4 linked regions of the Homo sapiens genome follow. The protein of the gene in region 1 interacts with the protein of each later gene in a pairwise test. Each region holds a gene or a part of one and is shown on either strand. Other genes may lie near its edges. The genes, in order: TMEM88, C2CD2L, ZDHHC22 and TMEM50B.

Region 1 (6,094 bases):
GCACCCTCAACCCTCCTCTCCCAACCAAGATGTCCAGGGGTGCCAAAGGTTCTCTCAAGTTCAGGGGTAGAGATGGGGGGCAGGGCTGAATGACGGACCAACAGGCCCCAGGGTGGGCCCCTGCATCTTCCCTCCCACGGCTGCTGCTCCAGAATTGTGGCGGGAGGGGGTGTCATCCTGCTCCGGAAGGCCCATTGTTTCCCACCCCGGCCTGGCAACACCGAGTTCCTCTAAGCTGGGGTCAGAGAACGGGCTCAGGTCCCCAAGGGGAGCAGCGGCAGGCGGCCGAGGCTGGGCCCCTCCACTCTATTGAGGGGGAGGTGCCTGGGGTCAGGAACAGATCTCTGAGGTCTGGCCAGGAAGAACGGACAAAAGCGATAAGGCCAGGGGGCTCAAGGATGCTCCTCTCTGCTCATTTGTAGCCCTGGCACATGTTTCCTGTTCCTCGGCACAGGGCAGGGGTGATAGTACTTGTGCCACGCCTCTGTTCGCAGAGCGCGTTCAGTTCGTTAAATCTTTATTGATGCGTGGACACTCCTTCCCCTCCAGCCCCGCCCCCCAGCCCCAGAAATACTAGAGAAGCTGCACCATAAAACGAGGGCACGAGATTGTTGTCCCATTCACGACGGAGCTGAGGGGGAGGTGTGCAGGTTCCAGCCTAGATGTTCAGGATTGAGATGTGGGTCGTGAAAGGAAAGTGGGTTTTCCGGGATGTGGGGGCTTTTCTCAGCACTGGGTCCACTGACGCTGCTGCTCCCAAGGGGATGCTAGGACTCCGCTCAGGCAGGGGTGGGGGCAGGGCAGGTCGGAAGATGCCGGGCTTCAAGTCCTTGGGCCGAATAAGAGGGAGGGCAGCCGTCAGGGTTGTTCTTGACTCGAGGGTCATTAGACCCAGACCTTTCCTGATGTGGGAACGGCCTGGGACCCTGGTGAGGCCCGGATTTGCCGCGGCTGCGGGGCGCGCCGACGCCGATAAAGGGCTCGGCTGTAGGGCACGAGGCAATCGGCTAGGCGGAGGCGCAGGCAGAGGCGGCGGTAGCTGGCCAGAGCAAGCACGAGCAGCGGCACGAGGAGCAGGAATCCGGTGACCAGTAGGGCCGTGAAACCGGGGTCCCGCAGGTGCGCGGTGCAAGGGGGTGCCTGGGAGCGCAGGAACTGTGGGAGAAGAGGCGTCAGGCCCAAGCCGACCAGGCGATACTGTGCACGGGGTGGAAACAGCCCAGGCGGGTTGAAGTTGTGGCCCATAGACCCCACCGCCAGCATCACCACACACCAACACTCACACTCACACGCACACCCCGGGGCGCACGCTCACCTGAGAGTGGCAGAGGAAGCCGAAGCCCAGCATGGTGACAGCGGGTAGCAAGATGGTCCCTAGCACCAGCACCAGCAGGAGAAGATTGAAGGCAGCCACCAGCAGATTCTGGGCTGTTACAAGAACAGCGCAGGCCCAACAGTCCAGGGGGTCCCGGGGCTCTGGGCCGTCACCAGGAACCGCTCGCTGTGCCCCGGGGACATCCGCCATGGCCCGCCTGGATCCCGCCCGCCTGGGCCGCTGCCCTTATAGCCCTCTTTCCTGCCCCTCCCCCGGCCCAGCCTCTCCCCACCCCCCTTATCCTGGAATGCGGCTCTAGGATTAGGCACCCCCCATCCCGAGGAGCGGACCAGAGCCCTGGACATTCCACAGGCGCCTCCGGGGAGGGGCTCACCCTCGCCAGGGTCTGCGCAGTCCTCCCCATCAATCACGGTCTTGCAGCCCTCCCGGTACTCAACCTGCTACCACCAGCCGTTAGCGAAACAGGATTTTTTTTCTCCGTTTATTTTTAATATTAATATTCTCACACAAAAATCACCGAAAATAGGGGTAGGGTTGGGAAGACCCCTCTGCCCCTGGGGCAGAGAGACAGTGCAGTGCGAGGGTGCGGGACTGTAAACCCCCCACCCCTCCGCAGCCCCAGCGTGGAGAAAAAACAACCAACAAAACGAAAATAAAGCCCCAGAGAAACTCACCCCGGGGTGTCCCTGCCCCAGTGAGGCCCTGGCCCTGGGTTGTTTCACACTTAAAAAGAAAAGGGGGTGGGGGTGAAGGTCTGTGTTTTTTAAAGTTGGCCGGGGCTGGGAAGGACGGGGTTCCTTTTCCTCATAGTTCTTTCTTTAAAACCTTTAATTTTTTTATTTTATTTATTTTTTTTACAAAATACCATTTCAGTTCCCACTTCTTCCCCTACAGTACAGGAGTTGCTCACCCTCAGGTGGGGCTGGGGTCGGGTCGGGAGTGGGGGGACTGGTCCGAGAAAGTGCAGGACGTAGGGGAGGGGAGCGGGTTTGAGCACCATGAGAACCCGGCTGGAGCCGCGGGCGGACGGGTGGAGACGGTCGGGCCGGGCCCGGACACACACTGGGGCGCGGGGAGAGCCCGGCGACGGGCGGTCCCTGGAGGGGCGGGCAGGATGGCTTGGGGGTGTGGGAGGTCGGGTTTTCCCAAAAATGAATAAATAGAGGTGAGTGGGACTGTTATAAATTAAAAACAAAAAAACAAGAAAAGAACAAAAAATACAAATCATAACCAAGTGAATAAAGAGACATGTACAGGGGTCACAGCTAGCATTGGAAGTAAAAAAGGAGGTTCCGGGGGAGGGGTAAAGCCCATAGAAAGAATCTCATTAAAAACCTCGGCTGCCGTAACGTCTATGTACATACACGAGCCGCGTGCATCTGCGCCGGGCGGGCGGGCGGCTGGCAGGGTGAGGGAACCCGTATGTGACCCCCGCCGCCGCCGGAGCCTGGTCCTTGTGTCTGTTGCTAAAAAGGCCAAAGTCGGTGAGGGGAGGCGCTGGTGGGCGAGGGGCTGCCAGCCCCCTCCCCCGTCTCCCATTTTTTTTCCTTTTTTCCTCATATTTGCTAAAAAAAAAAAAAAAGTTTTTCTTAATAAATTAAGTGAGGGGAGCTGCCAATGGGGTGGAAGGGCTGGGCCCGACCCCCTTCTCGGCCACAGGCGGGACCTAGGTCCAGCCCAGGCATGTGCTGGTGGCCCCGCGGCGCCTTGCGCGGGCAGGCAGGCGGGCGGGGCGTCCGGCCTCATCGCGACGTGCTGGCTGGGGCCTGGGGGGAGAAAGCCGGCGGGGGCTCAGGGAAAGGCGCGGCCGGGCTCCCGAAGCCCGTCCCTGCAGCCTGCCCCAGTGCCCTCCTCCGCTGCCCGCGCGCCCGCCGGGCCCTCACCAGCGTGAAGGCGTCGTAGGCCTGAGCCAGCTCCTCAGTGCGGTACTGCTCCAGCACCACCACGCCCTGCAGGCCTGCGCTGCGGCGCCGGGCACAGCCCTCGCAGTGTACCAGGTACGTGTTGCGGCTGCCATTCTCACTTGTCACGAACAGGATGTTAAACACCTCCACCTGGGGCAGGGAGGACAGTGCAGTCAGGGGGAGGGAGGGCCACTGTGGACACTCAGGGAGAGCAGCAGAGCCGGCCCACTCACATCGCACTCGTTGCAGTAGTAGGCTGGCTCGTCCTTGACACGGCCCTGGTAAGCGATTTTCTTCCCTGCCCGCACCAGGCTCTCGCGTTGCACCTGGCAGTGCTTCATGGACTGCAGCAGGCAGAACCTGGGGAGCAGTGGGGTTGTGTTGAGACCACCGGCAAGGAGGAGGCCTGAGGCAGGGCTGGAGCAAGGGCAGAGGGGTGGGCAGCCCCAGGGCCCTCCCCTAGGGGCCTCCCCGCTTCATGTCTAGGTCACATCCTCTGTCCTGGGCATCTGTTATAGGCGAAGTTTCCTGTGGCTTTTGTCTATTTGGACCACTAGAAAAGGTCATGACAGCAAGGACCTAGTTAGCCTCCCCAACACAGTAACACTCGGGGCACAGGCAGACAAGGATGGAGAGAGGTAAAAATGGGGTGGAGTCAGACAGGAAGAACAAGAAAAGGGACCAGTCAGTGGAGGTGGGCTCCCACCCAAATAGGGTCCTCACTTGATCATCTTGAACAAGTCGGGGTCGCTGATTTTGACCGTGCGAGCCACGTTCCATGACACGTGAATCATGGGCACGATGGATTTGACGTTCTTCACCTCATTCCACTCGTATCGTTCCAGGGCCAGCTGGTACTGATAGGCTGCGGGCCAAAGGCGATCACAACAGGACTCTCAAACAGCCCCCAGACACCTAGGCCCAAGCCCCTTCCCTCACTGCTGGCGGCTCTCCAAGCCCCAGCCTCCCAGGCCCTTGCCGCTGAGGCGCCACACCACGCCAACACCTGCCCCACCCTCTCACCGGTGAGGGGCCCCACGTTCCAGGCAATGTTGTTGCACCAGCCGGTGGCCTGCACCCAGTGCACAGTCCCCGCATTAATCCACACGAGGTCTCCGGGTCGCTGCACGAAGCGGTACACAGGAATATTGGATGCATAGAGATCATCCAGGATTGGCCACCAGGAACCCGTCAAGTAGTCCACGCCGTGCCTGCGGGGTGGCCACAGGTCAGGTGGGAACTGGGGACCGAGGGCGGGGACGCGGCAGTCTGACTTGCGCAGGACGGCACGCACCGATCACAGAAAGCGCTGATGGTCTCCCAGTAGTGCTCGTGCACCGCGAACCACTCGCAGTCGCCTGGGCCAATGTTGATGTTGACGGAGCAGAAGTTGTTATTCTCCTGGTGGCCTGCAGGGGTCGACAGAGAACGGCATGGCTGGCCAGGTCGGAACTGCGATCCCCGATAGCCCCGCCCTCTGCCCTCATTGGCTGACGGCTGAGCGCCGCCGCCAGCCCCTCCTCTCGCGCTTCCAGCATCAGCGCGCACAGGCGTGGAGCGCACCTGGCGTTCGGCTGCCGGGCACCTTCATGTACAGCTGCACCGTGTTCATGCCCAGGATGGTGTGGCCCACGTGGCTCAGCATGTTGCCCGTGGATGTTACCCGCATGAAGGCGGGCAGCTTCAGCAGCTCCTGCAGCTGGGGCTTCCACCTGCGGTGCGGAAGTGCGACGAGAGGCTACACCCCGCCCCCGCCACGAGGTCCTAGCAGCACTCCTGCCCCAACTTCCCTGGCCTCAGCCCCACTGACCGCTTAGCATCAGACAAGTCGATGTTGGTGCCAAACTTGATGATGTGATGGTTCTTCGGGTCTGGTGCGCTGCTGCTGGGGCGAAGAGCACAGGTTGGTGGAGAGCAGAGGGAGGGGAAGGAAGCAGGAACAGAAGGGGCACACCTGCACAGTACCTAGGAGGGGTTCCAGTGGTGCTGTCTGGCTCCTCTGACTCCTCATCCTCACTCTCCTTCTCCTCCTGTTCAGCCAGAGGGTAGGCAGGCCTGGGTCAGAGACCTTTCGAGAGCCCTCCCACCGCAGCCCCGTCCCAGGACCTGCCTCTGGCCACGTTCTCATCTCACCTGCAGAGACTCCTGGAAGGATGAGGCCTGGTACTGTGCGTACTTGGCAATGGTGGTGTGGGAACGGGAGCTCTCACAAGGCCAGATCTGCCGAGTGCCTGTCAGATCCCAGTTCTCATCTGAGGGCTGCTGCACCTGGGTGCGAACTTCCACGGTGTGTTCGCCACTCGCTTCCACCAGGGTCTTGGTGGAGAAGAGGCCCAAGTCTGGAAGGGAGGGCCGAGCAGGGTGTCGGGGCAGAGGCAGAGGATAGGGACCGAGGACCCAATCGACCCTTTCCCTTCCTACTCCTCTGGCTCTGACAGGGTGGTCATAGGTTTAGCAGAGCTCAGCCCAGAAGAAATAGGCAGGAGCCCTAGCCCCACAGGAAGCTGGGAGTGCTGGCCTCTATCTGCATCCTCACCAGCCCTCTTTCTCCTGCAGCTGCTCAAGGACTCAGCCCCTAGACCAGTGTTCCCAGATGTGTGCGTGGCCATGTGCACCGCACCTGACAGACACATAGTAGGTGCTCAATGAATGGCAGCTTCTTTTTTCCCCATTTGGAGTCTAGTCAAAACAGCAGCTTCTTTGAGTTACCATTGGATCCAATTAAAGATTAAAGATTCAGTCAAGTGAAAGCCTGAAATGTGCTTCAAATAACTCAGTGTGGGGAAGGGAGAACATACAGGTATAAAGGAGACAAGATTGACCTTTGTATTTCTATACAGCTTTCTCTAATTTT
Region 2 (7,537 bases), on another chromosome or scaffold:
CATAACTTCAATGGGATTCTCAGACTTCCTGAAACCAATCCTTAGATCCATAAGGCATTCACAGACTCCAGGTTAAGAACCTCTGGACTAAAGGGAGCCCTTGGGGTCAGTCCTTCTTGGACCCCAAAGAGGGCAGTGCCCATCAGACCCTTACCATGGTATGCTCAGATTGGTCTACGCAGGTCACATGACTGATGCTGGCTCTGGGTGGGAGTTGGGGCACCTCCTCAAAGGCGATTTGGATGGAGCTCTGAGGGAGTAATGTGGGCATTGGATCAGGTCTCTGGAGCTGCCCCCCACAGGGTTGGCCTGCTCAGTTGCTGGCTGGACTCTGCCACTGCGGAGGCCTCAGCTGCAGGCTGGCTTCTGGCCCCTCCTTGGCTCAGGGCTTTAAGACAGGAGGTAGTCCCCTCAAGGCCTGCCTCTCCAGGGGCCTGTAGCTGCTAGGAGCCACTGAGCAATGGGGAGGTAGTCCACCTCAGAGACTAGATCACCTTAAGCTGAAGACCCTGGCTTCCTCCTGGAATACCAAGAGCTTCCTTCTTCTTCTCCCTGCAATCCCTTTCATCCCCTACCCTACCCCCTAAAAAAACAAATAACAAACAAACAAAAAATCCTACATAGAAAAAAGTTAAGGTGCTGGTTGCCACCTATATATAATAGCTGGGCAGAGGGAAAGGGCTAAGCCCCGGTAAAGGTGGTAGAGCCACCTTGTTCAAGATAAGAGCTGCAGAAATGAAGCTAAGCCTTCTTCCAAATAAATAAGATGTGGAGGCTTCAAGAGTATGATGCTTCATATTCTTGGAGATGAAGATGAGCATGGCCTTGGGGATCCGTACCAGGGGGACTGGGAAGAGATACAAGCTCAGAGGACCCAAGAGTCCAGGGGCCTGGCTAATTCCTCAAGGCAGATAGCAGGACGGTATTAGAGAGCAGAAAGCTGCTTAGATCTCAAAAGAGCTGCTCCCTAATTCGTCCACAGTAATGGAAGCAACCTACCGCAGCCCCACCTGGAGAGCAGTGCGGACACAGAATTGAGGAAGGGGCACAGAATTGGCTGGCAACTCTTCCTTGGGTCTTGAGATGGAGGAAACAAATCCATAGGGTTCATTTGCTTGGCAAACCAGGGGAAGCCAACTCCTTTGCTCTGGTAGCTGTCTCATTCAAAGGCTAGGCCAAGGAAGATGGGGAGATGGATGCTTGAAACCTCAATCTCCCCACCCTCTGCAAGGGAGGCCAATGTCCAGTTGAGTCAGCTATCCTGGGGAGTTGCTTCTGACCGAGGGACAAGGTACAGGGAGAGTTGGATGAAGAGGTGGGTTCAAGGTGTAAACTGACAGATGCCATCTGGCTTTTAGCCAGCCAGCTGGACAGAGTAAATAGAGCAATTTCTTGTGGACATTTCTGTTTCCGGCATCTGGGGAACTAGTAAGGTAAAGCCTCCAAACTCATAGTGGCTGGAAATAGAGAACCCTCTGAGCAAGGAGCTGATGGACTGTGAGAGCAAGGAGAGATTGCTGGGTCAGGATGGGAGGGAGCTCCAGAAAAGAGAGACTTCTACCTCCCACCTTATCTCCATCTCATGACCACGCTTCCTGCCCCACTTCCTGGGAGGCCAGATGCCCATGGTGCAATGGGAGGAAGTAGGCTGGACTGGTTTGTGACTGACCCTCAAGGGGCAGTTCCAAGCTCATCTACTGGTAGGGGCACTGTCAATCTGCTCTCCACCTGAACACTCCCCAACCCCCAGTGAACCACAGGCCAGCATGGAGGAGAAGGATGTGTTTGACTGTAGCAGTGAAATTACTGTCGGGTAGGGGGGTGATTCAGGCTCCTTGGGGATCTGCCTGACCACACCAGGGATTTGGGGCATGAAATGTTAAATGGGTGTGGTGGCATGAGAAGCAGGCAAATTCCTTCTGCAGGTGCACCTGTCTCCCATGCCCCAACACAACCAGCACCCAGGCAAGGCGGAAGTGCCCTCAGGCACAGGGATTAGCGTTGCTATGAGAACAGCAACTTGTGCATGGGTTTGGAACCAGAGTACCTTGCCCACAGAAATGGAAGTCTGGGGACCCAGTTGGATTTCTACAACCTCCAGCCTTAGCGGCACCCTTTTCTCTGATCCGGGAGGGGAAGAGAAGCCATAGGGTTCCCCAGTTTATGCCCACCCTCGTCTGGCCTCCTAGCACGAGCAGTCAGTCCCTCCCCTGGAAGGAAAGGCTGAAGGGACCACCCAAGCGCTTGGTCCAACTCACCCCGTTTCTGCAGGCCTGCTCGTTCAGCGCTCGCACCCAAGCCCGCTGCCAGTTCTCCCGGAAAGACTTGAAGGCGAAGAGTGACGCCAGGAGGCCCCGGACTCCTGGCTCCTCGGCGGCGCCAGCCCGAGTCGCCCGCAGCCGCAGCAGCGAGCGCCACACGCCCAGCTCCCGCAGGGAACCCGCGGGTTCCCCGGCTAAGGCGGGTCCCGGGCCCCGGTCCCCGCGGGCCCGCGCCAGCCACAAGCCCCGGGCATATTGCAGCAGCCAGGCGAACACCGTGAGCAGCGAGGCGGCGAAGAGGATCAGCAAGGCCGCCCAGCCCACGTCCCGCTGCCCCCAGCCCGGATCCATGCTCCGCGCGGGCTCCGATCCCGGTCCCGGCTGGGGCTCACCCGCTGCCCCGGGGGAGCATGGCCCGGGCGGGCCGCGGGGAGGAGGTGGGCTCCCCCGGGGCTGGGCGCGCGGGGTCGGGGGCTCTCCGCGGCTGAGTGCCCAGGACTAGTGGGTGCCACAGGGCGAGGAGAGGAGGTCCTCGGGGGTCGCGATGCCGGGGTCTCTGTCTCCGTGGTCCGGGTCTCTCCTAGCTTGGTCAGCAGTCGGACCCGTTAGTCGCCGGCCAGTGCCCGACTCCTCCCACCGCGCGGGCCCCGCCGGACCCTGGAGGGGACTGGTCTGCAGAGACGCTGGGGCTCGCGGGCCGGCACCGGCTCCGGGAGGGCTGCGTGCGCAGAGCTGACACTGACAACACCGCCGGCGCCCCGCCCCCACCCGCCCTTAAAGGAGCCGCACCCGCGCCGGGCGGGGCCAGGACAGCCTGGCGCTCCCTCGCTGGAGGAGGGCGGGAGGGCTAGCAGCGAGCGGAGGAGGTTCCGGGGTTGAAAATAGGCGGGATCTTTGATCACCTCGCCCCATCTTGCAATCGCGGTGCTCCCACACTCAGCTCAAGGCAAGAGTAACTTCACTTACCTAAGATGCTGCCTTTGCTTTCCCCTATGCTTGTTAGATTTCCACAGGTCGGACGCCTGTGAGGTTAAGAAGGAGGTGACCCCTGTGGAAATCACCGCCCCCTTCTCCCAACACCCCCAGACTCAGCGACTTCTAGCTTCCCATTTCCTGGGGGAAGCTAGGCCCAGGGTAAGGAGACGCAGAGCGTCCCTCCCAGATAGAAGTGTCTGGCAGAGGTCCAGCTGATGTCAACAGAGAGAAAGCAGAACCTGAAGCTGGGAGAGGTTGAGAGTAGAACACCGAATTTGAATTCCCCCCACCATCATCACCCTCCTTCCTCTTGGAGCTTGGACCCAGAAACAGCCCCATTAACCTCCTTGCTCGTGTAGGTTTGTTCTGGAGATTCCCAAGCCCAGGCTGTGTGTCTGTTTTTAAAAATAATGTATTTCCATAGTAACAGCTCCTGCCTATGGAGCACGTGTAGAGGGGGTGGTAATGACAAGGGAGCTGGCAATGTAGCACTGGACTATCAATAGATTCAGCCACAAGACCTTGCCACTCTAAGTATGTGATATCCCAACAAGCTCCCAAGAAATGGTGCTGTAGGTACACTGCCCAACCTCTGGCCTCAGAAGCCATCTTTTCCTAGACTCAAGGAGTTGATTCAACCTCTACAGGACTGGGGCTCATCAATGCTTGCTGAGGACAGGGGAAGGAAATACCTGCAAAAGGATTCAAAGGAATCCTGGGGGAATTCACATTCTCCCAAGAGCCCCTTCTTCATACATGTGGGAAGGTCTTTGGCACACAGTCCCTTTCTTAAAGAGGTAGGATGGAAAGGTGTTAAGTATCTTTCTCCCAAACCCAAGTAGTTGTCTGAGGAATGAGCACATGAGAATAAGAGAATAAACAATGCCTTCTGAAGTGTGGGATGGCAGGGCTAGACAGAAACTGACAGGTCAGCAACAGGTTTGTCTGAGCCAGAGGAGGTGGTGGGGTAGCCTGGGCCTCCCTAGATTTCCCTGTAAGGAATGATGGGGAGAGGTGGGGGTGAATGAGGTAACCTCCTGTGGCCCTGCCCATGCATTGTCACTGGACTGCCAAATCAGTGGAGATTCCTAGAGTCTGGGTTTCTAATCTCAAAGGGAGGAGAAGACATGAAATCAAGGGAGGAGAGAACTCAGGGCCAGAACCAGGGATGCAGGAGGAAGCTGTCAGTGGGAAGAGCAGCTAGGGTTTAGGGGAGCAGGTTATGCAGGAAGTTGTCCAGGTAGAAGCTTTCCCTATGAAGACCCTCTTCCCCCAAGAATCCTTCAGGAACCCTCAGACCCCCTAGTGATCTCCATTCTCTGACTTCTTTGATTTATTCCCTCAACTTCTCCACTGAGTGCTTGGTCCTATGCTGCCAGATACTGCTTCACAATTCAGTATCTGAACTGTGAGTCTACCTAGTTACATGAGTCTCCCTAGTTAGTCCTCCCTCTTTTTTTTTTTTTTTTTCTCTTTTCTTGAGACAGAAAGTCACTGTTGCCCAGGCTGGGGTGCAGTAGCGAGATCTTGGCTCACTGCAACCTCCACCTCCCAGGTTTGAGTGATTCTCCTGCCTCAGCCTACCAAGTAGTTGGGACTATAGGCATGCGCCATCATGCCTGGCTAATTTTTGTTATTTTTAGTAGAGACAGGGTTTCACCATGTTGGCCAGGCTGATCTCGAACTCCTGACCTCAGGTGATCCTCCCGCCTCGGCCTCCCAAAGTGCTGGGATTACAGGTGAGAGCCACTGTGCCCAGCCTAGTCCTCCTTCTTTCTTCCATTACTTAGACCTCTAGCACTTACATTCTGCCTTAGAGTCTAGCTGATTGTTTATATGTCTGCTTTTTCCATGCATCAGGAAGCTGCCTAGGGGTGGGAACCATGTCTTAGTCATCTCTTTTCCCTCAAATTCAACCAAGATGCTCCAAATATGCTGAAGTAGACTCCCTGGGGGCAAGCAACTGCAATTATATTAGTTTGTATCCTCCACAGTACTGAAGAGCTTCCTATGCACATAGTAGGGATTAACAAACTTTGTAATTTTAAGAAGTCTAACAGAAAATACTCAAGTATGCTTTGAGAATTTCTATGCCATTTCTGTCTTTTGAAATATCATTCATGCCATACCAGTGGAATGGGAAATCCTGGGGCTTGCTTTTAATTAACAACTTTTTTCTAGACTAAGAGGGGAGAGGTGGGAGGAAAAGGAAAAAGAGTGATTCAGCTGACTGGACAGAGCCACAGATAGAGTCCTGCAAGTATCACAGCCCCAGACTATCCAGAGGGGTCTCATTGTCTTTGTGGCACTATGAAACATTTTTGGGACAGGCTTTGTCTAGCAATCACATTCAGTGGATTGGCCTTGCTCATTGGGAGCCACTCAAGGCTACTTAGAAGAGGTGTGCATCTCAAACACTGTCTGCTCAGTCCAGGGCCACTGACAAGTCAACTGGTCTGTGAATCCTAGGGCCGGCTTCAGCATTCAGGAAAACGCTTTGAACTTTTACCAGGGAAGGCACACAATTTCAAGTGAAGCCAAAAGTCATGTGTTTGTTTCTCCTTCTGATTAGTCTGATCATCAACTGGGACTTTATCATCATGGGAACAAAAATACTCAGATTATCTGACAAGTATCTTAGTAACCATTTTCTGATAGTAACATGTATATGTGGATGATGAATCCTTAGTCTCTCTTGTCTTTGATTACATCCTTCCACCCTCCCCAGGAGGGTGGTGGTAGGGAGGGCTAATGATCTCTGGAGAAGAAAGAGATAAAGCTTCCCAATACCAGGCTGGGAAGGAAGATTTATTAGGATTGGCCTCCTAATAAAAAAGGAAATAGATACAGACTGGCTCTCAGACCTCCAGGGAGTCTCAGTATACTCGTCATCAACAAGATAACTGAATGCTGCCTCCTCTGGGATCCCACAAGCTCCTCCTTTCCACCAGCTTCTGGTGTCTCACTGTCGCTGCCTGTGAAAGGTCCTTCTACTCTTATAATCTACTGAAATGATACTTCTCTTCCTCAAGACCACTTACTCTGGTCACAACTAATTGCTCCCTCCATATGCACCTATTGCCCTCAGTCCTCCTTTCAGCCTCAGCCTCATTATGTGTGATGATGCCTTCCTTGTACACAGATGTCTGTGTTCCTAGCCCCATGGGGACACCCTGTGGAAGAGAAAACACTTGCCTCCCGGGAGTTTCTAGTTTAAAAGGGGCACACGTGCATACACACAACACACACAGAAAAATAATAGCAGTGGGATAAGTACTGAAAATCTGGTGGAATACTAGCAAGTAAATTACGAAAATTTATGTATTTTATACATATCTGGGTTTTTGTTGTTGTTAATTAGAGCCATTTTCAAGTAGAAAAGCCATTTCACATCTGATTTAGTTTGTTTGTTTGTTTGTTTTGAGACAGTTTCCCCTCTGTTGCCCAGGCTGGGATGCAGTGGCATGATCGCGGCTCACTGCAACCTCCTCATCCCAGGTTCAAGCGATCCTCCTGCCTCAGCCTCCTGAGTAGCTGAGATTACAGGCATGTGCCACCACACCCGGCTAATTTTTGTATTTTCAGTAGAGACGGGGTTTCACCGTGTTGGCCAGGCTGGTCTCGAACTCCTGACCTCAAGTGAGCCACCCACCTTCGCCTACCAAAGTGCTGGGATTACAGACGTTAGCCACTGCGCCCGGCCTCACATCTGATTTTGAGGGAAAGAAGAAACTATCTTCGGCTTAAAAACGGTCAACATGACCCTGACTCCTGGAACATGCCATAGAGGGAAGAGTGGACAAAGCGCTAGGCTATTGGAGTCCTTTCCCTAACTCACTGGTGGTGACTTCCTCTCTGACAAATGGAAATCATTTGCCGCCTAAGAGCCTGTCGGGGAATGAAAGGTAATAAAGATGCTGGTGAACTGGCTGGGCGTGGTGGCTCACGCCTGTACTCCCAGCATTTTGGGAGGCCAAGGCGGGCAGATCACCTGAGGTCGGGAGTCCCAAACCAGCCTGACCAACATAGGGAAATCCCGTCTCTACTAAAAATACAAAATTAGCCGGGCGTGGTGGCGCATGCCTGTAATTCCAGCTACTGCCTGTAATCCCAGCTACTCGGGAGGCTGAGGCAGGAGAATCTCTTGAACCTGGGAGGTGGAGGTTTCGGTGAGCCGAGATCGCGCCATTGCACTCCAGCCTGGGCAACAAGAGCGAAACTCTGTCTCAAAAAAAAAAAAAAAAAAAAAAAAAAAAAGCTGGTGAATTGTTGTTTGCAGGGGAACAGGCCAAGCAAAATGC
Region 3 (7,026 bases), on another chromosome or scaffold:
CCTGATGGCATGAATCTTGTCATCCTGTTCATCACTGCATTGCCAGTGCCTGGAAGAGGCTGGGAACGTAGTTGGCACTCAATAAATATACGTAGGATGGATGAGTGAAGGAATGAGTATGGGAGGGAGAAATGTGAGCAGGTGGAGCCAATACTACATTAGCTCTCTAGGGGGTGTGAAGGCAGAACCACAGTAAAGTCCTCCCAATCTCTGCTCAAGAACCCAGGCTGTTGCGCAGCTATCAGCGGGTCACTGCAGTTGGCGGTTGGACATTGCAGGGCATGGATTCAGCACTGCTGCCTGCATGGATGTCATATTGGCTTTGGGACCCAGTCAGGAGGGGGCACTTGTGTTGTCCCTACTCCCTTATATGCCCCAGAGGTCTGGTCCTCTAGGTTTCAGAAAACACACAGCAGTGCCTCCACCGGAGTCAGTCAGATGCGCAGGGATGGTCTGGGAATTGCACCCTTATATTCTGGTCATCTCCACTCCTCAGCCTTAGCTCACCACTGCCCCCCATGCCCTGCCACTGACAATGACACTGCTCCATCTCCCTGTCCTCAAATGTCAGTCCCCTCAACCACCCAGGTAGCCCTGTCTCTGCAGAGACTCTCTCTTCAGTGGCTGGGTTGGGTCCTGATTTTCAGACCCCTCCCATGCCCACACTCCCCTCTAGGAAAGCAAATATCTCACAGGCATCTCTGCAGATCTTGCCTCTGGGTCCAGCAATCACAACCAGGACATCAGAACCTTGGGGTTGGAAGGAATGTGTAAGCTCACCTAGAATGACCCTGTACAGAAATCCCTTCCACAGCATGCCTGGCAGACGACTGCCTAGACTCTGCTGGAATACCTCCAGTGATGGGGCACTCACTACCTTCACAGGCAGCCATTCAAACATTGAAGAGTTTCAGCTGCTGGAATGCCCTTTGTATAGGGCATAAATGAACCCAATTGTCCCTCTCACTTCTCCCTTTCCCCTAGGCATTATTCCTATATGTTTCTAACAACACTTCTCACCACCACCCATCTCTCTCTCTCTCTCTCTCACACACACACACACACACACACACACACTTCCATATGGTTATACAGTCGAATATCCCCTTCATTTATCAGTAATTATCTTTCCCTGTCCCTTCTTCCTTGCCTTCCCATCATCTGGCAAAGACCTGGGGGCTGGAGATCAAGTAGAAAGGCTGGAAGAGTTCCAGGGACAGGAAGCATCCAGCCAGGTCCTGGACTGGGCTGGGCCGGCCAGATGGGGCAGGGTGGACAGGGAATAACATTTGGAAAAAGCAGGCCATTGATTGCTGTCTCCCAGAAAAAGGGTCTTGAACCTGGTGGGGGGTGGTGAGGGAGCAGCAAGCTACTAAGTTCTTTTTCCTACAGAGGGGATGCGGACACACACCCACTCTTTCCCAACTCCCCTAGCAGTTGGCAGAGCTGACTTGGCTGCCTCTTACACGTGGTGATTTTAAACATTTGCCAGCCTCTAGGTCCCAGGGAGTCTCATACCAGCAGCAAGAATCCACTCCCCTCTCCCAACATGGGGGCTGAGAGGAAGGGCTCTAGCAGACAGCAGTGATGAATGAGACACGGTGGAGAATGGATGAGCCAGGAAGAGGGGGAAAGCAGGGATCCCAAGGGGACGGAAAGAAAGCAGAGGCAGCCTAACAGCTAGCAGCCACCTGGCTGGCTCGTGAGGAGCCTAGAAATGCCTGGGGGGACATTTTTCCTCCTTGTCATGATCCACCAGCTCACGCTGTTCTCATGGGTGGAAGGTGAGGGGAAGATGCTAGGACCTTACCAGCACAAGGTTGTAGTGAGTCATGGGTGGAGACAAGGCTGCCATGGTTTTATGCTCAGGAGGAGTCAAGACAGAGACAGAGAGATAAATGACGGGAGTGTCTACTACTTATCCTGCTGCTTGGAGCTCTCACTTCCGACATTGAACATGGGGACCAGCAGGCCCAGCAGCCACCTCTTTCCGAAGACCTCTTGTAAGTTCTTGCGCCAGGGCCGGGCCCTCACTGCCACCCCCTTCCGCACCTGGTGGCGGGTCTGCCCGCGGAGGATCAACAGCAGCTGGTGGCAGCAGAAGCCGGCGCAGGCCAGGCCGATGGCGAACCAGAGGTAGAGCATGAGGATGACGAACATTTCAGAACCCAGGACAGCTCCTGCAGGGCACGGGGAGGGGAAACACCAGAGCCGCTTTACACCCAGGCCACCGGCATAACTGCGATCTAGGCAGGCTTTCCACCGGGAGGGAGGGAGATTAATGAGATTGACGCTACATTTTGTAGCAACCTCAGCGCTGCAGCTGCAGTGAGGGAGAGGAAGGAAGAACCAGCTGCCCTAACTTTTTCTTGGCGCGGATGGCACCTGAGGCAAGAGGGGAAGACTGGAGACATGGCAGAGAAGAGAGCTAAGTTTGATGAGCTTAGCAAGGACAGCCCTCAGCTCCTGGGGCAGCACCTGGCCGCTGATAACATTTCTGTAGAGTAGGAGATGCCTGTCTCTCTCTGCTTTCTCCTTTTGGGCTAGAAGCAGGGTGAAGGGGTTTTGCTCAGGAGGAGAGAGGGGTGAGCTGGGGACCCTAAAGAGGGAGCAGGTGCCTGGGCAGCTGTCTAGTCCACAGCACCTTCTCCCTACTGTTCTGGGAACGCTGGTTGAGAGGACTCAGGAAAATGACAGCATGATGGAGATCTGGGAAGAATAAGTCACGAGCTTAGTCTGAAGAGCAGCCCAGAACACCAACGTAGAGAATAATTCAGTCATTAATGTTAACAAGAGGACAGTGTGGCCACCACCGCATTCCACCAGAGCTGGTTCTGTCAATCAAAGCTTGCTAGAAGAGGCCCCCAAGGTCATCAGCCCTGTGTCGTGGGGCAGGATCTCCCCAGAATCCCTCTAAACCAAGCACTTCCTATTACTGGTTTGAAATAACCACTGAGTAAGAGCTCCCACACTCTTCCTCAGAGTTTGGGTGGCTGGTCCATGCTAGGTTTGAATCTCCCAGCTGTGTGGACTGGCACAAGTGTCCCAACCTCTCAGTTGCAGCTCGTTCATCTGTACAATGGGTATAATAACACTAACGATTTCATACAGCTGCATGTTTCAAGAAAATGATGTACAGAGTGGTCAGCATTCCGGTTCACACTCAGAGCGGTGCTCCCAGCAGAGGGTCATTTTACAGAGCAGGAGACTACATCCAAAATGAGTTCAACTCCTGAAACTATCAAGCTTTTTCCTTCTCCTTTTCAGGGCTTAGAGTCCTGGCTGGGCTGCAACTTTGGCAGCTGTGGCAAAGACACTTACCTTGACCTACCCAGCAGCCAGGGCACTGGACCCTGGAGTTAATTCGAAAGTATTCCTTAGCCTTTGGTTCCCTGTAGGGCAACCCTATCACCTCCTCTGGTGGGGGGGGGGCACCTCCTCTAAGGACTCCACCTTACAACCTATTCTGCCCTTGAAAATCTCAACCATATTTTGCCCTTTCCCTAGCCTTCTCTTGCCCCAGCCCACCTCTTCCCAAGTCTCTCCAACCTCCAATTTCCAAAGCCCTGTCAACTGGGCTTTCAACACTTGTCCAGTATGAGCAGTGGTGGACTCAGCAGCCATGGAGGATGTGGATCTGATTTAGATTCTCTCATTAGCAGCCTCCTCTTGTCCTCATCCCTAGGAGCTTGGATAGCTGTATTATTTTTTTTTTTTTTTACAAAGCTGGGGACAGATAGGCCCAGCTGCCATTTACAGCAGCCCCTCCACTGGCACAGGGGCAGCAGTGGGACAGGGCTCACATTGGGCTGTGCCATCCCCTGACCCACTTCTTCCATGTCGGCACAGATTAGCTTGGGCAGCCATGTGGGGGATGGAGGATCCCAGGTCCATGGTGCTCTTTGGCGTGAGGAATGCTGACAGGCAAAGGTGGCCCTCAAGCTGGGATGTGAGAACATCAGAGCTGTCAAGCTTGGGCCTGCCTTGCAACACTGCCCCAGGAACAAGCCTGGGTGGATGGAAGCCATTTCCCACAGGGTTTTTTCCTGGCACTAAATCAAGGCATGAGAAAAAGAACTTGCGGCCTTTTCTTGGCCCCATGCAGCAGCTACAAAAGGCTATTCTGGGGACCTGCTTTCTCTAAAAGTGTTTGAAGTTACCTAGCCTGGCTGCTTCAGCTCCTCTTAACTATTTAATAATAGTTCTGCCTCTTTTTAAAAATCACAGAATTTTCCTAATGAGCCTAAAAGGACACATCAGTCAATCTCCCCTGCCCCTTCCTCCCAACAGGCATCTATAACACCTTTGACAAATAATCACCCAGCATACTTTTTAATACATCCAAGGACAAGTAGCTGCCTCCCTTCCAAAGTGGCTCATTCGAGAAGCAGCTTCAGAGAGGCAGCCCCCAAGAGGCAGTATGGTGGGTGGAAAGAGTATGAGCTTTGGAGGCTAGAAGCCCCAACTCCAAATCTTGGTTTGGAATCGTACCAGCTGTGTGGTGTTGGTGCAACTTAACCTTGCTGAGTCTTTGGTTTCTGAGCCTTAAAAATGGACATGATAATATGGACTTGTCAAGAGGAATGGGTGAAATGTGACATGCATAGTGGGTGGTACATAATAGGTGCTCAATGAACATTAGTCCCCTTTCCCTCTTACTGGACTTTCTGGTAGCACCCATCATGCTGGTGTACTTACCCAAATGCCAAGATACAGGTCAGATGGTGGCATCTCCATTTCCCAGATAAGAATAAGGTTCAGAGAGGTGACACAGCAACCTGTACTGGTCCCACAAAGCCAAAAGAAAGGGTAACTTCTGAAACCTAACTAGCTAGCCGCCTCCCTCTCTGGATCAGCTGAGGGCCTGTGGTTGGCCGCCACCTTCACACTAGAAGACCCCTCCCACTTTTAGCTCTCAAGGCCCAAACTCACAGCCATCCATGCTCTGGTGACAGATCTGACTCAGATCTGTACCACAGTTGGGGACAGCTCAATTTCTTTCTTTCTTTTTTTCTTGAGACAGGGTCTTGCTCTGTAGCCCAGGCTGGATAGAGTGCAGTGGCATGATCATAGCTCACTGCAGCCTCAAACTCTTGGGCTCAAGCAATTCTCTCACCTCAGCCTCCTGAGTAGCTGGGAAAACAGGCACATGCCACTATGCCTGGCTAGTGTATTTATTTATTTTTTATTTTTGTAGCAACGGAGTCTCACCATCTTGCCCAGGCTGATCTTGAACTCAATTTCTATTAAACAACCCATGCTTCTTACTCTTTTCTGTCCACCTGTCCTCCTGTGCAGATGAGAGAGGGTGCTACCAACTGTTCGGATTGAGGGTTGGGGAACAAGAGGAATGGGAAAGGGAAAGCCAAACAGGTGGGGTGTATGTCATGGGAGGGAAAGAAAGGAAGGTCCTCAAGAGGAAAGATGAAAGGTCACAAAAGATGAGATAGGAGAGTTGGAGGTAAGAAGTCTTGCTCGCCTGTTTCCAGTGGATATGGTGAGGAAGTGAAAGACACTGGAACTCATGCTGGCACAGGAGTCTGGGCCCCAAGGTGGGCACTCACTGGCTCTGTTCTCCCATCAGATCAAACCTAGCACATATGGACAGGCCTCAAGCCCAGATTTATCTCAAATCAAACCATTTCAAGGTCTTCCTTCTGGAACCATCCATTTTTACGGTTGGCGAAACTACTTGGAAAAGAAAGTATAAGCAGGCTTGTTGGCTCTCTTCATCCCTCCACCTGCCTGTGCTCACACTCCACCCACTAGCCCACCCACCCACCCTCCCCCGTCCTGGTTATTTTGGTCCCGGCAGCCTCCTGTGCCAGTGCTGGGATCCAGAAGGCCTGAAAGCTGTGAGTTCTGGACCCAGCTCAGCCACCAGCCCTGAAGGCAGCCCCCGTAGCTGGGTCCCCCCTGTATCTCTGTGTTCCCACTGCCAAATGGCATGATAGTTCTATGCCTGGGAAGAACTGGGCTGTAGCCACCACAAAGACTGAAATGATGGCTTCCCCCAGAGTAGAGCAGAATTTTTATGAATGTTCAGCCCAGGCACCTCAAAACAATCTTGGGCTTTCAGAGGAAGTAGCTGCCCTCTGCCTTTCTTTGCTCCTAGAAGGCCAACAGGTGAGGAAGCATGTTCTATTCCCTGAGCCACTGCAGAAGAGCTGTGGATTAAGGACCTGAGAGGCAGACCAGAGACTGCCACTCAGTAGCAGGAAGACACTGGGCAAGCCACTTAGTCCCGTCTGAGTCTCGGTTTCATCATCTGAGAAATGGAGATAGCAATGCTATACATGCACACTCAAGCACGTAGACACTACTGATTGTGGAAGCTAAGCCATTCAGAGTCAAAGGCCAGGGTAGGGAGGAAGTGGAAGGAAACGCAGTAGGAGCCAGTCTCAAGGCCAAATAAAGTGGTAAGAACTGCCACCAGGAGCTGAGTCCTTCTAGGGCCAGGTATCAGGTAGTGGTCCTTGGTGCATACTAGTTAAAGTGCAGTCCTCAGCCAGGCGCAGTGGCTCACATCTGTAAATCCCAGCACTTTGGGAGGCCAAGGTGGGCGGATCACTTTAGGTCAAGAGTTCAAGGCCCGCCTGGCCAACACAGTAAAACACCATCTCTACTAAAAATACAAAAATTAGTGTGGCGTGGTGGCACGCACCTGTAATCCCAGCTACTCGGGAGGTTGAGGCAAGAGAATCACTTGAACCTGGGAGGTAGAGGTTACAGTAAGCAGAGATTGCTTTCACCACTGCGCTTCAGCCTGTGTGATGGAGTGAGACTCTGTCTTAAAAAAAAAAAACAAAAAACCTGCCTCTCCCACCCACGTTCCCTCTGCTCTGAGCCATCAGCAGGCTGGAGAACAGGCTGGTGAGGTCAAACATAATAGGCAGGAGGACAGAGCTTAGCCTCCTGCTGGGCTGGGCTGGCAACAAGTTCAATATTACTGCAATTGGTTGGTGAGACCTCTGGAGAGCAGAGTCCTTGGGTGACATGTAAGCAGAACTGGGGACCAGGCAGAGG
Region 4 (7,026 bases), on another chromosome or scaffold:
TTACTGCGTTACAGATTAATGCCAAAACCCTGTGGCTTAAAACAGTCATTTTATTATGTTTATTAGATTTTATGGGTCAGGAATTTGGAAGGGGCATAGCCAGGATGATGTATCTCTGCTCCATATATCTGGTGCCTTACCTGGGAAGGCTCAAACTTTTGGGATGGTGCTATAGCTGGATAGCAGTTACCTAAAAGTGTCTTTACTCATGTCTGGCAGTTAATACTAGCTGTTAGCTGGGACCTCAACTGTAACTGTGGGTCAGAACACCTATAAATGGTCTCCTTACAGCATGGTAGCCCAAGCATTAGTGTTCCAGAGAACCAGGCAGATGCTCCATTGCCTTCTGTGACCTGATCTTGGAAGTGGCATGGAGAAGTTACATAGCATCACTTCCTCTACTCTACTGGTCTACTAGTCTTTATTGTTGACCCAAATTCAAAGGTAGGACATAAATCTACCTCTCAATGGAAGAAGTGTCAAATATTTTAGATATGTTTAATTTATTTCATTTATTTATTTATTTTTGGACAGAGTCTTGCTCTGTTGCCCAGGCTGGAGTGCAGTGGCATAATCTTGCACTGCAATCTCTGCCTTCCAGGTTCAAGCAATTCTTGTTCCTCAGCCTCCCGAGTAGCTGTGATTACAGGCATGTGCCACCACGCCCAGTTAATTTTTTGTATTTTTAGTAGAGACAAGGTTTCATAATATTGGCCAGGCTGGTCTCGAACTCCTGGCCTCAAGTGATCTGCCCACTTTGGCCTCCCAAAGTGCTGGAATTACAGGCGTGAACCACCTCGGCACCTAGCTCCTAGACATGGTTTAAAACCATAGTGCTCATTTATCAAATAGCAAGCTCCCCCTTGGGTCCTAGCGTAGTCCTATATACATCTCAATTAGGTACTTGTTGAAGTATTGAATTTTTCTTAACTATAGTAGAATAGGACCTAAAGTAAAGTTGTGTGTAAAGCTTTAAGAAAGGAGTAAGGTATTTTACTTTTAGAAAACATTTTCTTAGGTTGATTAGTTTTTGTCTTTCTGTTTGTAGGATACAGCATTTAATGAAAAATTTATGCTTAAGAAGTAAAAATGGCAGGCTTCCTAGATAATTTTCGTTGGCCAGAATGTGAATGTATTGACTGGAGTGAGAGAAGAAATGCTGTGGCATCTGTTGTCGCAGGTATATTGGTAAGTGAGAAAGACTGGTTGGTGACATGTATCCCTTACCTTTTGCCCTGGAAATTAATGCCGGTTCCTTTGAACTGAGAATGGCTTTCCAGAACTATTTATTTCACTGCTGTTTTGTATAGATGATTATCAGAGTTCTAGATACTATTGCCAAGCAGAATATGGTAGGCCCTGGATTCATTTTGACTTTGTAAATGTGTACTTAATATCTTTTCTTCAGTTCCAGTGATAATATAATTATTATAGGCAATAGCATTTTTAACTTACTGATACAACATATATGTAAGTACTTTAAGATCCTTAAAGGCTCAGAATTTGATGTAACCCAAAATTATTGTTGTGACTTATTGAAGGTCAGACAACAGTGACAGTACTCTGCAGATAATAGTAACAACCTTAGGCTCCATTGGAACTGAAGCCCTGCAGCGGCTCTAGGGAAGAAATACCATCTCTGTTTCCCCAGCTGCAACATCAGGGGAGCATCAGAGGAAGAGATTTGTGAAGGAAACTATTGTTTAATTTTCTTTCCATCATTTTTTAACTTTAATTGAAAATGACAGGCATAAAACAAAAGCAGAGAGAATGGTATAAAGATTCCATCACCTCCTTTATCCCATGTGTCTATCATCCAGCTTAAAAAAAAAACACCCCAAAATCAGGACCTATCTTGGTTTATAATTCCATCAACCACTCTCTGTCCGCACTTTTTTTTTTTTTTTTAAAGAGACGAGGTCTTGCTATGTTGTACAGCTACTAGAGTACAGTTGCTATTTACAGATGTGGTCGTAGTATACTACAGCTTCAAATTCATGGTCTCAAGCAATCTTCCTGCCTCAGTCTCCCAGGTAGCTGGGACTACAGGTTCATACTACCATTCCTGGCTCCCACAGCATTTTTTGGAAGCAAATTTCTTTATCTGTTTACATTTTAAAAATTCATCTCTTTCAATGTACAGTTCTACACCTAAAGTCCAATAGAAAAACAAAATGAAATGAAGCAGAGCAAGAACTAACGATAATTGTGAAGCAGTCTGCTCACTGCAGTCTCCGCCTCTGACTTCCCAGGTTCAAGCAATTCTTGTGCCTCAGCCTCCCAAGTAGCTAGGATTAGAGGCACATGCCACCATGCCCAGCTAATTTTTGTATTTATATTTGAATGTTTTTGAGACAGAGTCTCGTTCTTTCGTCCAGGCTGGAGTGCAGTGGCGTGATCTCAGCTCATTGCAGCCTCCACCTCCTGGGTTTAAGCGATTCTCCTGCTTCAGCCTCCCAAGTAGCTGGGATTACAGGTGCCTGCCACCATGCCCAGCTAATTTTTGTACTTTTAGTAGAAACGAGGTTTCACCATGTTGACCAGACTGGTCTCAAACTCCTGACCTCAGGTGATTTGCGCGTGTTGGCCTCCCAAAGTGCTGGGATTACAGATGTCAGCACTGCGCCCGGCCTTGTATTTTTAGAAGAGATGAGGTTTTACCATGATGACCAGGCTTGAACTCCTGACCTCAAGTAATCCACCTGCCTTGGCCTCCCAAAGTGCTGGGATTACAGGCGTGAGCCTCTGTACCCAGCCCATTTATATGATCTGTAGGACAAAAGGAATGTTAAAAAGCAGGTATTGTGCTAGCAAGAGTTTTAATGTTTCAGTGACTTGGGCTGTGTTTTAAGTTTTTTACAGGCTGGTGGATAATGATTGATGCAGCTGTGGTGTATCCTAAGCCAGAACAGTTGAACCATGCCTTTCACACATGTGGTGTATTTTCCACATTGGCTTTCTTCATGTAAGTATGAAGATAATTCTCTATTCAAGGTGATTTTTCTAAAAATACTTTCCTGTTAATGTGCAGTGCTTTCTTGAATAACTTTTTAATTTATTTGATAGACTATTTTTTAACATGATACATACATAATTCCCATTTTATTACGATTTTTTTTAACCAAGAATGAGTGTTGGATTTGGTCATATATCTTTTTAGCACCTATAACAATTATCTTGTGATTTTTTTTTTTCCTCATATTTTTAAATCTGGTCAGTTACATATTTTGTCAGTTGCAAGATCTACTTTTTCGCATTTTAATACCTCTGAATATCAGGATGCATCTTACAGTCAGTGGTATCTTAGAATTATAATTGATAACATTTTTATTTCTTGTCAGTATTAAAAATTAATGGTGTATCTTAAAACTGATGGCTCTGAGATTTCATGAAACATGTTACGTTTCTGCATTTTTTTAGTAGTAAATCACCCGTAGGTGTTGTAGTACACTCAACTTTTACCTTGCAGTATTATTTTTATTTTTTTTAATGTGCTACTTGACTGTGTTTGCCAGTGTTTGAGGAAAAGGCAAGATTGGCCTCAAAAGAGATTTGTTTGTGGCTTTTGTTTTTATTAAATTATTTTTAAGTTTATGTTACCTCATTTCATAAAAAAGCTTGGAAGCTTTTTATGGATGTCTTTTAACAATTAAAAAATATTAAACATTAAGATTACATCATTTCCTTATACCATCAGGAGGTTTTTTTGTTTTTGAGACAGAGTCTTACTCTGTTGTTTGGGCTGGACCACACTGGTGTGATCTTGGCTCACTGCAACCTCTGCCTCCCGGGTTCAAGTGATTCCCTTGCCTCAGCCTCCCAAGTAGCTGGGATTACAGGTGCCTGCCACTACGCCCAGCTAATTTTTTGTATTTTTAGTAGAGACGGGGTTCCACCATGTTTGCCAGGCTGGTCTTGAACTCCTGACCTCGTGATTTGCCTGCTGTGGACTCTCAAAGTGCTGGGATTACAGGTGTGAGCCACTGCACCTGGCCAGGAGTTTTAAAAAGGTTATATTTTGGAAAATGGAACTACTTATATCCATTGTGGCTTCTAAAAAAAGGAAATTCCTGTTACTAATTAATGTACCTTGCTCTAACAAAAATGGAAGGGGAAGCTGAATAAAGTGGGCATATTATACATAAGCTACATTTTCTCTGAGCTTAAGAAATGGATCATAGAAAATCACTTGACTTTTAACACAAAGAGAAACTGTTTAACTCTTGATAATAATGAGAACCTTGAAGTGGGATAGCACTGAGTCATTCATGTATAAATGTGAAATAGACAAAGAATCCAGAAAACTGGTCCCTCTTGTATAATCTCTGGAGAGAAGTGATAGAAATCTCTTAAAATAAATGTGTTTTCTGGGTGTACTTTATGAAAATAAGACTAATGTAACATTTCTATCAACTAGCATTTTTATTAGGTTAAAAATATGTTAAATTATTCAGATACTGATTTTAGTTATGAAATAATCTGTTTTCCGTCTAAGTGTTATATAAATATTTGAGTATTTTAACAGCGAATACTGAAATTCATTTGATGATTTTGTGCCGTTCTAGGATAAATGCTGTATCCAATGCTCAGGTGAGAGGTGATAGCTATGAAAGCGGCTGTTTAGGAAGAACAGGTAAAGATACTTTGAGCTGTTAATGGGTGTTGACAAAACAGAAATTTGTCACCAGAAAAAAAGCCTCTCTTGTGAGTCTTTATTCAAGACTGGTAATGATTATATAGAATATTTTTTATTTGCTTTAAAACAAAGTTTTAGTGTTATTCAAATCCTTAAGAAAGTAAGTTATTGCTAGAAGTTACTGTTTTTGTCATGTTACACTGCCCATGATATAGATAAAAAATGTTGCTATTCAAATGGATCTTGGACTCCAGTGCTAATGATGGATTTATTATTATCCCAATTGTTGACCAATAATGTTACTTACAAGATGGCTGACTATGATTATTAACAGGAAAGTAATGAACACATTAGGGGATCAAACCTAGGACTACAGTGTCTTTACATTCACTTCTGATCACCTGAGTAGCCACCTACAGACTGCAACAAAATTGTTCAGTAGAAAGATGCTATTTGTCTACACATAAATTAGTTTTTATAGTTTGAATTCATTTGAATTGTTATCCAATTTTTGTTTTTTTTTTTTTTTTTTTTGAGACGGAGTTTAGCTCTTCTTTCCCAGGCTGGAGTGCAGTGGTGGGTTTTTGGCTCACCACAACCTCCACCCCCTGGGTTCAAGCAATTCTCCTGCCTCACCCTCCCGAGAGCTGGGATTTCAGGCATGCGCCACCATGCTTGGCTAATTTTGAAGTTTTAGTAGAGATGGGGTTTCTCCATGTTGATCACGCTGGTCTCGAACTCCCGACCTCAGGTGATCCACCCACCTTGGCCTCCCAAAGTGCTGGGATTACAGGAGTGAGCCACCGAGCCCGGCCCAATTGTGTTTTTTAAACATTTACGGCCGGGCGCAGTGGCTCACGCCTGTAATCCCAGCACTTTGGGAGGCTGAGACGGGTGGAACACCTAAGGTCAGGAGTTCGAGACCAGCCCTGCCAACATGGAGAAACCCCGTCTCTACTAAAAAATATACAAAATTAGCCAGGCGTGGTGACACACTTCTGTAGTCCCAGCTACTTGGGAGGCTGAGGCAAGAGAATCGCTTGAACCCGGGAGGCAGAGGTTGCGGTGAGCCGAGATCACCTCATTGGACTCCAGCCTGGGCAACAAGAGTGAAACTCCGTCTCAAAAAAAAAAAAAAAATTTACATTATAATATGAAGAAATTAAGGTACAGTGGGCTTACATAATGTGTCCAAAGTCACAGAGCAAGTAAGTGGTGGAGCCAGGATTGAACATGGACAGTCTGGCTCCAGAGCCCATGCTTTTAGCCACTATGCTGTGCTTGTTTCCCATCTAGAACCATTTGGTCACTTTGTCTGGTTTGGTATCACGTGTATATTTTTTCTTTTTGTCAGCTTAATTGAATATAATTTAAGTATAATAAAATTCACTAATGTATTTATTATTTTATTAATTTTTTTTGAGACGGAGTCTCACTCTGCCACCCAGGCTGGAGTGCAGTGGCATGATCTTGGCTCACTGCAGCCTCAACAGCCTGGGCTCGAGTGATCCTCCTGCCTCAGTTTCTCAAGTAGCTGTGATTATAGGCACATGCTGCTGTGCCCAGCTAATTTATTTATTTTTTGTAGAGACAGGGTTTTACCACGTTGTTCAGGCTGGTCTTGATCTCCTGGCCTCAAGCTATCCACCTGGCCTCAAGCTATCAGCCTCCCAAAGTGCTGGGATTGCAGGCATGAGCCACCACGCCTGGCCAGAATCCACCAATTTAAAGTGTACAATTTGATGAGCTTGATCAAATGTGTACAGTTACAGTTGTGTAACTACCACTACAATCATGATACAGAACATTTCCATTGCCCCAAAAAGTTCCCTCATACCCCTTTTTATAGTTAATACTCTTCCCCTCACCTCGTGGCCACTACTGATCTACTTTCTATGATGGTTGCTTTGCCTTTTCTATGATTTCATATAAATGGGATCATATAGTAAGTATCATAGCCTTTTAAACCAAATAAAGCAGCTTTGAAGAGCTTAGCTTTCTTTTCTACTTGATGTTTTATTTTTTAAATTTTGTATTTATTTTGTTTGAGACGGAGTCTCGCTCTGTCACCCAGACTGGAGTACAGTGGTGCGATCTCAGCTCATTGCATCCTCCGCCTCCCAGGCTCAAGCAATTCTTCTGCCTCAGCCTCCTGAGTAGCTGGGATTACAGGTGCCTGCCACCACGCCTGGCTAGTTTTTGTATTTTTGGTAGAAACTGGGTTTCACCATGTTGGCCAGGCTGTTCTCAAACTCCTGACCTCAGGTGATGCACCCGCCTTGGCCTCCCAAAGTGCTGGGATTACAGGCATGAACCACCATGCCCAGCCTTCTACCTGATGCTTTAAATGCTGATGTAGATTTTGTAACCTCACTTCTACTGGAATCCAT

The links.
Region 2: the proteins of TMEM88 (region 1) and C2CD2L interact in binary tests that used the Homo sapiens proteins (3 or more experiments, as listed by UniProt).
Region 3: the proteins of TMEM88 (region 1) and ZDHHC22 interact in binary tests that used the Homo sapiens proteins (3 or more experiments, as listed by UniProt).
Region 4: the proteins of TMEM88 (region 1) and TMEM50B interact in binary tests that used the Homo sapiens proteins (3 or more experiments, as listed by UniProt).

Annotation. Positions count from the first base shown.
Region 1 is NC_000017.11:7,850,506-7,856,599, reverse strand, and holds TMEM88 (transmembrane protein 88), read right to left. Parts: upstream 1,535-6,094; 5' UTR 1,526-1,534; coding exon 1,316-1,525; intron 1,198-1,315; coding exon of another isoform or gene 1,156-1,197; coding exon 886-1,155; 3' UTR 830-885; coding exon of another isoform or gene 659-829; 3' UTR 501-658; downstream 1-500. Other genes in the region: KDM6B (lysine-specific demethylase 6B), read right to left, coding at 3,079-3,390, 3,474-3,600, 3,964-4,105, 4,264-4,451, 4,535-4,649, 4,804-4,952, 5,051-5,122, 5,206-5,270 and 1 more. UniProt on the Homo sapiens protein: Inhibits the Wnt/beta-catenin signaling pathway. Crucial for heart development and acts downstream of GATA factors in the pre-cardiac mesoderm to specify lineage commitment of cardiomyocyte development.
Region 2 is NC_000011.10:119,102,817-119,110,353, reverse strand, and holds the start of C2CD2L (phospholipid transfer protein C2CD2L), read right to left. Parts: upstream 3,011-7,537; 5' UTR 2,613-3,010; coding exon 2,259-2,612; intron 2,242-2,258; exon of another isoform or gene 1,000-2,241; intron 251-999; coding exon 155-250; intron 1-154.
Region 3 is NC_000014.9:77,131,769-77,138,794, forward strand, and holds part of ZDHHC22 (palmitoyltransferase ZDHHC22), read right to left. Parts: intron 2,181-7,026; coding exon 1,915-2,180; 3' UTR 1-1,914. UniProt on the Homo sapiens protein: Palmitoyltransferase that could catalyze the addition of palmitate onto various protein substrates and be involved in a variety of cellular processes. Catalyzes the palmitoylation of KCNMA1, regulating localization of KCNMA1 to the plasma membrane.
Region 4 is NC_000021.9:33,462,949-33,469,974, reverse strand, and holds part of TMEM50B (transmembrane protein 50B), read left to right. Parts: intron 1-1,048; 5' UTR 1,049-1,089; coding exon 1,090-1,188; intron 1,189-2,852; coding exon 2,853-2,965; intron 2,966-4,565; coding exon 4,566-4,633; intron 4,634-7,026.